3 linked regions of the Homo sapiens genome follow. The gene in region 1 interacts genetically with each later gene. Each region holds a gene or a part of one and is shown in the gene's direction. Other genes may lie near its edges. The genes, in order: PIM2, PLA2G4C and CHD1.

Evidence for each region.
Region 2: changes in PIM2 (region 1) and PLA2G4C together harm fitness less than expected from each alone (positive genetic interaction), as found in Homo sapiens cells (one large-scale study listed by BioGRID).
Region 3: changes in PIM2 (region 1) and CHD1 together harm fitness more than expected from each alone (negative genetic interaction), as found in Homo sapiens cells (one large-scale study listed by BioGRID).

Annotation. Positions count from the first base shown.
Region 1 is NC_000023.11:48,916,195-48,920,460, reverse strand, and holds the start of PIM2 (serine/threonine-protein kinase pim-2), read left to right. Parts: upstream 1-1,436; 5' UTR 1,437-1,626; coding exon 1,627-1,687; intron 1,688-1,815; coding exon 1,816-1,925; intron 1,926-2,629; coding exon 2,630-2,680; intron 2,681-4,266. UniProt on the Homo sapiens protein: Proto-oncogene with serine/threonine kinase activity involved in cell survival and cell proliferation.
Region 2 is NC_000019.10:48,108,010-48,112,226, reverse strand, and holds the start of PLA2G4C (cytosolic phospholipase A2 gamma isoform 1 precursor), read left to right. Parts: upstream 1-1,409; 5' UTR 1,410-1,711; coding exon of another isoform or gene 1,712-1,740; intron 1,741-4,217. UniProt on the Homo sapiens protein: Calcium-independent phospholipase, lysophospholipase and O-acyltransferase involved in phospholipid remodeling with implications in endoplasmic reticulum membrane homeostasis and lipid droplet biogenesis.
Region 3 is NC_000005.10:98,853,462-98,856,134, reverse strand, and holds the end of CHD1 (chromodomain-helicase-DNA-binding protein 1), read left to right. Parts: 3' UTR 1-2,150; downstream 2,151-2,673. UniProt on the Homo sapiens protein: ATP-dependent chromatin-remodeling factor which functions as substrate recognition component of the transcription regulatory histone acetylation (HAT) complex SAGA. Regulates polymerase II transcription.

The DNA of each region.
Region 1 (4,266 bases):
TGTCTGATGGGGTGGATGTCCGTTTGTGTTCCTGCAACAGATTCTGGGTAGCTATTTCTGGACAGTTTGTTCCATTGATAAACTGCATGTGTCATGGTGTATGTATGTCTGTGTCTGAACAGGTCTATCCATGTCTGTTTTTGTGACACTGCCACAAAATGTGATTCTATCACATCAGTACATGTCTGCCTTCAGAGCAGTGCATGTGTGTCCCTGGAGCATCTGTGCATCTTCCTGTGACAGACTCTGCGTCTCTCATTTCTGGGACAGTACAAGTCTTGCTGTGACAGTGCATATCTGATGGTGACAGTGTGTTTGTGACAAGTTCTGCCAGTGTGACGGGACATTTCTGTGTCATCACATGGCAAATGTAGGTCTGCGTGAGTGCCTTTCTGTAACAGTGTATCTCTGGGTGTCATTCTAGGACATAACTATTTTTCTGACAGTGTGCTTGCCTGAAAGTGTATGTCAGTCTCTGGCTGCATGTGTATCTAGGTCGTTTCTGTGAATGTGTCTGACAGTATGTGTTTGTGTATATCTTGGCATTCATGTGTCTTTGGAGTGCATTTTTCTTCCTGGGGTGTGGCGCCTTTTCTGGCTGTTTTTCACAAATTTGTGTCTGAGAGTTGCCACTTCTCTAGCAGCCTCTATCATGTCTCTCAGTCCTTGCCTCTCTCAACTCCAAGAGCAGCCCCATGCCACCACCACTCTGGGCTCACCCCCATCCCCCAAGAACCACCCCCTGCTGTTCTAGATTCTAGACTTGCTGACTGGGCCCAGGGCTCAGGGTTAAAAGCTCCAATAAACACTCACCAGGCAATGCTGCCTTTGACCAATGCACACCCGTGGCGTTGATGGTAGGGGTTCCCCCTCCCTGGCTACCAGATATTTCCAGGGCCCTGGCCTCAGCTTTCCAGTGAAGGCCGCCAGTCGCCTGGAGGACTCCGGTGAAGGAGTCCGACAAGCACCTTTCGAGACGGAGTCTTGGATAGCCACAAGCGCGAATTCTTAGAAGCCCGGCCTGGCGCTATCTCTGTGCTAATATCCAGGCAGCGGCGGCAAACCAACTTCCCAGGAAAGGATACTGCGCAGTTATTTTTTAAGTGTAAATACACACACACACCGCCACCACTACCAACAACAACCCCGCGCAACAACCAAAACAAGCGCGGTGCTGCAAAGGGATTCCCAGAACCGGTTTCCTCTTGGTGTGAGCCCCACCTCAAGCCCCCTCATTTACATGCAGGCCCCGCCTCCTCGGAAGAACCGAGCGTGTATTTGCATAAGGGGGCCCTTGAAACGATGAGGGTGGTATGCAAATAAGAACTGGCTCCGATTGGCTGTGGTACAGCAGGTGCCGCGTCCGGATTGATCAAAGCCAGGTGGGCGGGGCTGTCGCCCAGGGTGACTCTCCCGGGAGGCGCGTGCCCAGGCTCAGTAGCATTGGGGCTGGCGCGCGCGGCGAATCTCAACGCTGCGCCGTCTGCGGGCGCTTCCGGGCCACCAGTTTCTCTGCTTTCCACCCTGGCGCCCCCCAGCCCTGGCTCCCCAGCTGCGCTGCCCCGGGCGTCCACGCCCTGCGGGCTTAGCGGGTTCAGTGGGCTCAATCTGCGCAGCGCCACCTCCATGTTGACCAAGCCTCTACAGGGGCCTCCCGCGCCCCCCGGGACCCCCACGCCGCCGCCAGGTGAGTACATCCTCCCCTACTGCAACCAGACGGGGTGGGCTGGAATGATGGGTTGCAGCGCGGGGGGAGGGAGTCGTGGCTGGGCTCAGCACGCCGCCACCCTGACTTCCTCGCCTCCGCCTGCGTAGGAGGCAAGGATCGGGAAGCGTTCGAGGCCGAGTATCGACTCGGCCCCCTCCTGGGTAAGGGGGGCTTTGGCACCGTCTTCGCAGGACACCGCCTCACAGATCGACTCCAGGTATCCGTCATGAGGGTCTTGGGAGGGTCAGGTGCGTGTGGCGGGGGCGGGGGTCCTGGCCCTGGAATGCTGGTTGACCGAGGAGTGAGCCTGCAGAGTGTGTAGAGGACCAGGTGTGTGTGTGTGTGTGTCCGTGTCCGTGTCCGAGGAGTGAGCCTGCAGTGTGTGTAGAGGGCCAGGTGTGTGTGCGTGCGCGTGTGTGTGTCGGTCTAGGAGGTTATGGGCGGGGGGGGGGGGCAGGGGGCTTCAGATTCCGGAGTTCCTTGACCCCGGGGTCCAGGCTGTGTATGTGTGGGAAAGCAGGGACCTAGATGTGAGATTTGTGGGACTTTTGGAGGTAGGTGTCCAGTGTGGAGTCATGCGGACCAGGACCCTGGTACAGAGTTGGGGTGTCGTAGAGCTAAATAGGAAGATTGTGGGCCTGGGGTATCAGGAAATCTAGAACTCAGGACTTGGAGTGATGAGTCCTGATGCCTGAGAACGGAGAGCCCAGGGCTAAGGAAGGTGGGAGAGATAAACTTGGTTCCGAGGACCTGGAGGGCAGGGGAGACGCCCTGGTACGCGTTCTGTGGGGTGCTGTGGTTGGGGACCAGAAAGACTAGAGTGCTGGTAGATGGAGGAATACTGGAGGTAGGCAGAAGGTCTAGACTGGGAGGGGTCTGGGGATCACCTGCTGGCCTCCTTATCACGGCCTTCTTCTCCAGGTGGCCATCAAAGTGATTCCCCGGAATCGTGTGCTGGGCTGGTCCCCCTTGGTGAGTACCTTCGGAGCCCTTCCTAACCTACCTACTCCATCACTGATGTATTCACCTCCTTGCTTTTCCAGGGGATGTATGACTCCCTGGGCCCTGTAACAGTGAGAATACTGCCAGCCCATTTATACTCCCTTGGGGTGACATACAGTTCTGATTCACCCCAATTCCCCTAGAGCCCTGGATTCTCCCCTCCAACAAACCTTTACCATCCTTCCTCCAAACACTGCTGGGGGACTGCCCGCAGGGCGTGCTGGTGGGGAACAAGGGGCAGAGGTCACTGGTTGCCATGGTGATGGTGGCTGCTTCTCTCTTGCCGTTATAACGCTAACGGACATCAGGGCGGGTCTGGGCAAGTTGTAGAGTTGGGAGCGCCCCCTGGCGGGCTCTAGGGGAAACTGCGCCTGCGCAGTCCATGGGACCCAAAGGGAGAGGGTGCGCCTGCGCAATATCGGTATTTTTGCATCTCGGTGAGAAAACGTCTGCTGCCGTGCAAGTCAGCAGCCTGGCCAGGAGAGGGCTCTACCTCATCCCAGAAGGTTGCTGCTCGAAGTGTACCTGCGCAGGGCTTGGGGAGGCAGTGGGGGGCGGATTTTGTGGCCCCCAGCGTTTATACTTTTTTTTTTTTGGAGACACAGTCTCCCTCTGTTGCCCAGGCTGGAGTGAGGTGACGCGATCTCGGCTCACTGCAACCTCCGTCTCCTGGGTTCAAGTGATTCTCCTGCCTCAGCCTCCCAAGTAGCTGGGACTACAGGAGCGCACAACCATGCCCGGCTAATTTTTGTATTTTTAGTAGAGACAGGGTTTCACCATGTTGGCCAGGCGGGTTTTGAACTGCTGACCTCAGGTGATCCGCCTGCCTCGGCCACTCAAAGTGCTGGGATTACAGGCATGAGCCACCACGCCCGGCTGCATTTATGACTTTTTTTTTTCCTTGAGACGGAGTTTCGCTCTGCTGCCTGGGCTGGAGTGCAGTGGCGTGATCTCAGCTCACTGCAGCCTCCACCTCCTGGGTTCAAGCGATTCTCCTGCCTCAGGCTCCTGAGTAGCTGGAATTACAGGCACCCGCTGCCATGCCCGGCTAAGTTTTACGTTTTTAGTAGAGACCGTGTTTCACCATGTTGGCCAGGCTGGTCTCGAACCCCTGACCTAGTGATCTGCCCGCCTTGGGCCTCCCAAAGTGCTGGGATTACAGGCGTGAGCCACCGCGCCCGGCCTCTAATTTTGTATTTTTAGTAGAGACGGGGTTTCTCCATGTTGGTCAGGCTGGTCTCGAACTCCCGACCTCAGGTGATCTGCCCGTCTCGGCCTCCCAAAGTGCTGGGATTACAGGCGTGAGCCACTGCGCAGGGCCACATTTAGGCTTTTTATTGGCTGGTTCTAGGTGCTTGGTGATGCTGACAAAACACATGATAACACTAAGTCCTTTTGTGCTAGGTCCTTTGTAATAAATCACTCAGCTGTTTAACAAATTAGGTATATTGACCACCTACTATATGACAGACATAATTCTAGACACTCAGCAAAGTATTACATAAGTATTGAGAGCTCATTTTGTGCTAGGTCCTTTTTTACTAATTGTTTTCACC
Region 2 (4,217 bases), on another chromosome or scaffold:
ATGCTGTCAGCTCCTTGACCCTGCATCTATAACTACTAACTATACTGTGGAGAGCCTCATGAGCTCCTGCGAGGTGTAGAACCTTATCCCGCAGGCGGGGCAGTGGCATGGTCAGGTCTAGGAGTGAAAAGATCCTGCGATGGTTGGAGTTGCGGGCACTGAAGAGGTGAGCCTGGCGTTAGGGGGAGCAGGGGAGACCATCTTCCCCCTGGTGAAATCCTGTTCTAAAATTGGTGATACTCCTGCCTTGGCCTCCCAAAGTGCTAGGATTATGGCCTCATATCTATTTTTAAAAAATAAGAATTCAAGCTGGGTGCGGTGGCTCGCAACTGTAATCCCAGCACTTTGGGAAGCCGAGGCAGGTGGATCACTTGAGTTCAGCAGTTCGAGCCAGCCTGGCCAACATGGTGAAACCCTGTCTCTACTAAAAATACAAAAATAATTAGCCGGGCGTGGTGGCAGATGCCTATGTTCCCAGCTACTCGGGAGGCTGAGGTAGGAGAATCGCTTGAACCCAGGAGACGGAGGTTGCAGTGAGCCGAGATTGCACCACTGCACACCAGCCTGGGCGACAAAGAGTAAGACTCCATCTCAAAAAAAAAAAAAAAAAATTCAAAACCCATCGAGTTGGGATGACGCTTAGTGCTGGGCTTCAGGAAGAGTAGGCAGGAGGGTAGTATGGGAGGTTTCTAGGAGCCACTCTTGGAAGCGGTGCTCCCCACAGATGCCCGATTGCACTGACTGGAACTCGGTCACATGACCACATAACTCGCTCACATGACCACACCTAGCTGCAAAGGTGCTGGGAAATGTGGTACCCTGTTGGGAGGCCACTTCTGGGCTTCAAACCTTCACTGTGAATGGAGCTCACAGGTTTTCTAAAAATGGACATTAAATGAACCAGAGTTGGCCCTAAGGATCTGGCTCACTGCAACCTCCACCTCCCAGGATGAAGCACCTGCCTCAGCCTCCCGAGTAGTAGCTGGGATTACAGGCACACGCCACCATACCGAGCTAATTTTTGTATTTTTAGTAGAGAAGGTGTTTCACCATGTTGGCCAGGCTGGTCTCGAACTCCTGACTTCACATGATCCGCCTGCCTCAGCCTCCCAAAGTGCTAGGATTACAGGCGTAAGCCACCACGCCTGGCCTCAATATTTCTTTTTCTGGGTATTTGAGTATGATATTATATATGATGGTTATTAGACAGCCAGATGCATAGGAGGATTAGCTAATCTGTTTTGAGGAATACTTATCTCCAATATAGTTATATAACGACAACATTCTTTTTTTGAATACTGGTCTCGGGTGCCTAATGACAGAAGGGTGACATCACTAAGGAAGCCTGGAAAGTCCCAGCCCTCCACGTGATCCCACGGATGAAAATAGCTCCGGGTGAGCTCTGGAACAGCTGAAAAAGCTGGAGCAACCAAGCAGGGCCTACAAGCCGAGGAGGGCTGTTTAAAGGCGCAGGGGCCATTTTACCTCCAGGTTGGCCCTGCTCAGGACCAGGAGGAAACACCTCCAGCCCGCGACCTCCTCCCACAGGGGGAAAAGGAAAGCAGGAGGACCACAGAAGCTTTGGCACCGAGGATCCCCGCAGTCTTCACCCGCGGAGATTCCGGCTGAAGGAGCTGTCCAGCGACTACACCGCTAAGCGCAGGGAGCCCAAGCCTCCGCACCGGATTCCGGAGCACAAGCTCCACCGCGCATGCGCACACGCCCCAGACCCAGGCTCAGGCAAGCCGTGGGGGCAGGGAGGGCTGTTTCATCCCGCTGGGGCGGCCATAACCAAGTACCAGGGATTGGGTGCAATTAAATAACAGGATTTCTTTTTCTTTTTTATTTTATTTTATTTTATTTATTTATTTATTTTTTTTTGAGACAGCATCTCGCTCTGTCGCCTAGGCTGGAGTGCAGTGACGCGATCTCGGCTCACGGCAAGCTCCGCCTCCGGGGTTCAAGCGATTCTCCTGCCTCAACCTCCCGAGTAGCTGGGATTACAGGCGCACACCACCACACCCGGCTAATTTTTGTATTTTTAGTAGAGATGGGGTTTCACCATGTTGGCCAGGCTGGTCTCAAACTCCTGAACTCGTGATCCACCCCACTCGGCCTTCCAAAGTGCTGGGATTACAGGCGTGAGCCACCGCGCCCGGCTAGGAATTTATTTTCTAACACTTCTGGAAGCTAGAAGTCCAAGATCAAGGTGTTGGCAGGGTTGGTTTCTCCTGAAGCCTCTTGCAGAGGCCCTAATCTCTCCTTATAAAACCAATCAGGCTGGGCGCGGTGGCTCACGCCTGTAATCCCAGCCCTTTGGGAAGACGAGGCGGGCGGATCCTGAGGTCAGGAGATCGAGATCATCCTGGCTAACACAGTGAAACCCCGTCTCAACTAAAAATACAAAAAATTAGCTGGGCGTGGTGGCGGGCGCCTGTAGTCCCAGCTACTCCGGAGGCTGAGGCAGGAGAATGGCGTGAGCCCGGAAGGCGGAGCTTGCAGTGAGCCGAGACTGCGCCACTGCACTCCAGCCTAGGGCACAAAGCGAGACTCCATCTCAAAAAAAAATAAAATAAAATAAACCAATCAAACCAAATTCCAGGCCACCCTCAGGACCCCACTTTAACTTAGTCACCCCTTTAAGAGCCTATGTCTGGCCGAGTGCGATGACTCATGCCTATAATCCCAGCGTTTTGGGAAGCCAAGGTGGAAAGCTCTCTTGAGCCTAGGAGTTCAAGACCAGCCTGGGTGACATAACAAGACCTGATCTCTACAAAACATAAAAAATTTAGCTGGAGATGGTAGCATGTACCTGCACTTCCAGCTACTCGGGAGGCTGAGGTGAGAGGCTCGCTTGAGCCCAGGAGGCTGAGGCTGCAGTGAGCCACGATCACACCACTGCACTCCAGCCTGGGTGACAAAGCAAGACCCTGTCTCAAAAAGCAAACAACGAAAAAGAATCCTATGTCCAAATACAGTCACATTCTGAGGTTCTGGGGGTTACAAGTCCAACATATGAATTTGGAGGTGGTGGGGGGAAGCTGATTAATTTCATAAGGGGGGTCTTGAAACTGCCTTCGCAGAAATGTAAGTAATGAGAGAAAGCTAACATGACTGACCATCTTGTTTCTAACCTCACAGGCTAGATTTTTTTTTCTTATTCTAGTGCAGAGGCCAAAATTACCATGAGAGGAATTTAATTCATAGTTAAACTTTGAGACAAAGAAAACTGACCCCCAGTCCTTGTTGAGAGATTGAAGCCACATTCATTTACTTTTTATTTATTTATTTAGTTTTGAGACAGAGTTTCACTCTTGTTGCCCAGACTGGAGTGCAATGGCATGATCTCTGCTCACTGGCACCTCCACCTCCTGAGTTCAAGTGATTCTCCTCCCTCAGCCTCCTGAGTAGCTGGGATTACAGGCGCCCGCCATCATGCCCAGGTGACTTTTGTACTTTTAGTAGAGATAAGGTTTCACCATGTTGGCCAGGCTGGTCTCCAACTCCTGACCTCAAGTGATCCTCCCACCTCGGCCTCTTAAGGTGCTGGGATTACAGCCATGAGCCACTGTGCCTGGCCTGAAGTCACATTCATAAGACAAGGTTAGAATCATGAAGGTGCTGGAACTTTGCTAAAGAACAGTCGTGGGTTGAAGAATGACCTGCCATCCCTTAGCTTCCTTTTCTATATGTGCTCCAGAGTCACGTAACCAGGGGTCGCATGATTTATAACTTCCCCAGCTACTTCTATAAATAATATCACTGTCGTGAAACACAGAACTCAGCTTTTTAGTGGGGTGTGGTAGCTAACACCTGTAATCCCCACTTCTTGGGAGGCTGAGGCAGGAGGATTGCATGAGCCCGGGAGAATGAGACCAGCCTGGGCAACATAGTGAGACCTCAATCTCTACAAAAAAATTAAAACTTTGCCAGACGTGGTGGTGCATGCCTGTAGTCCCAGCAACCCAGGAGGCCAAGGCAGGAGGATTGCTTGAGCCCAAGAGTTGGAGGCTGCAGTGAGCTATGATTGCGCCACTGTAGGGACCAGCCCTGCAGGGTCTGTGGGTCTTTCTCCCCATGTGCGGAGACGAGAGATCGTAGAAATAAAAACACAAGACAAAGAGATAGAAGAAAAGACAGCTGGGCCTGGGGGACCACTACCACCAAGACGCAGAGACCGATAGTGGCCCCAAATGCCTGGCTGCGCTGTTATTTAT
Region 3 (2,673 bases), on another chromosome or scaffold:
GGAAAATGTTTACTATTACAGGGACCTCAACACTGCCCTCCCATACAGGCTGGATAAAACTGTTTTTAAGTCAGTGATTTTAGACTGACCTCCATTTAAATTATGTTTATATATGAACTTTACTCTGACCTGTGATCATGTTTCAGGAAGGAATGAAAGAGAGTTCTTTCTTAATAAAGAAAAACACTCAAGGACTTTGTTCATTTCCAAAGCTACTTGTTTACATTGTACACTGCGACCACCTTGCCGCTTTTCATCACAAGCTTGAATATTTAAATTCTGTACTTATATCTGTAAAATAGCCAGGAATTTCCTGTTTGTGATCTATTATGCCTTTTTACAAAAAAAATGGCTGTAAATTATTGTAAATATTAAAGGAACTTTCCTTACTTCCTTCCCTTTCTCAGGCTTTTTTTGACTGTTCCTTTCCCTACCAACTCAGGCCTTCTTATTAAAAAAAAAAAAATCAGTGTAATAACACTTTTTAATGATTTGTCTTGATGGAATCATTGTTTAGAATGTAAAAATGGGGAAAGGGGCCACTTAATTCCATTAGTCCTCTTTTTATACTGAATATTTTATTAGATACATGTTATTCCCTTTTTTTTCCTTTTTTAGTCAATATTGTGTTTGTAGTTTTAAAAAATGGCGAGATATGTAAAATCTAAACTGCATGCTCTGGAAACACTTTTTTCAGATGCATCTGGTTTAAAAGGGTAGGTGTATAAACACTTTTCAGAATCCAAAACGGCCAAAAGTTATTGTAAATCCGTTTGTTTTCCCGTTTTATGTGGGCAATAATGTCAAATGTGCTATGCAGCCAGGTTAACATTTTAGATAAACTTGATTGACTTTTAATATAAACTGTTACAATGCACACTGATTGTATATAAAAACGTTATATATGACAAATTAAATTTAAGAAAAAGGATATGTGGGCTCCTGTAATTTTCTGCTGCATTCTTACTCCCTCAAGCACTTACCACCACCACCACCGCCCCCTACCCCCGTTTTTAAGTAACATTTTGCTGCCAGAAAAAGTATTTTGGTAAGCAGTTGAATATTTGTAATGTGTAGCATTACAACTAAATCTGTTTTGGAGACTATGAATATTCCTATGAAGTAAAACTTAGGTCATAGACATTTTTGTTGGCCCCTTTTGGCTTCCTACAGATATTATTATGGGATGCTTTATATTTATTCACAGATTTTTATTTTGTTTTATATTCAGCGGGAAGTTTTTAAGTCATGTGGCACACATTCTTGCATGTATGCTTTGATGTAACAAATTTGAATCTTTGACGAATATAAGTATGTGGACATAATTTCTATAGTATTGCTATGTGTGTCACTGTTAATTAGCTGTGGGAGCAACCTACAGATATTTGTCCATAGGTGTATTTTTTAATATTTTCCTTTGTCCAATTAGGTTTATGTGTATAAAAGCTTGTGGGTTTTTTTGCTTTTTGTTTTGTTTTTTGCAGTAATTTCTCTTTCTGATACAGTTACCCTGAAGAATAATAATGCTTTGTTTCTTTTCTGGTATATGAGAGAACATGTGAGGGAGTAGCTCAGTTTTTTAAACATCTAATTTATAATTAAATATAAAAGTAATGAAGGTAGTCCTGGCACACATTTTTGAAACTTTTATCACTTTTCTCTACATTTAGTATGACTATTTTATTCCACAAGATAGCATTTGACTAATTCATAATGCTTAAGTCATAAGATGGTGGCTGGCATTTTTTAATTTATTACTAAAAGCTAAGATATTTGCATTATATTGTGCAAATTTCACAGAACAATGTTGCATTTTCTGAGATAAGGCTCTAATTTTTTAAATAGTGCTACATTTAGTTGAAAGTTTCAGTCAGCTAGTTAGCTGAGTTGAATGAAAAATATAGAACTGTATGTACATTTATCAAATGATAAAATATGTTCATTTTTGTAAGAAATCAGAAAAATTAAGACGCAATGGTGAAGAACATTAGTACATAAATATAGCAGAACATTCTCCATAAAATATTCTGTTTTCATTCTGCTTTGTTATTTTTATCCAGTTATGTTTAATTTTTCAAGGGTGAGAGATTATGTATAGTACTGTACCAATTAACCTTCCACTTTTATACAATAAATAATTCTTACTAAAAGCAATAGCCTGTTTGCTTATAAAGATATTCTTTGTTTAGAGTATGTTAGAAATTAATTTTCAGACTATGGAAAATGAGTTTGAATAATTTTATTTTCAGAGTGAGTAGCTTAATGAGAACCTTTTTAATTTTATGTAATATAAATTATAATTTCTTTTTGTAGTTAATATGAAAAGGTTGAGTAGGTTATTCATTTTCATGAAGTTTATCAAGAATATGCTCTAGGAGTAAATGGCCTGATTTTTACTCTACCCCATTACTATTTCTAACTAGAAAATAATCTTTGCACCCCAAATTAGCTGTCATAGCTTTATAAATACAAATAGCTTTATAAATACAACAGCTTAAAAAGGGATAGGGATTTGGAAGAGCAACTAATTTTTAAATACAGGATTTTAAAAAACGACTTTCAGCTTCATAGGAAACTGCAAAAATATTTTAAAATATTTCTGAGTTAATATGTAAAAGCACATTAATATAGATGCCTCTATTAAATATACATTAAATACTCAATTTGAAAATG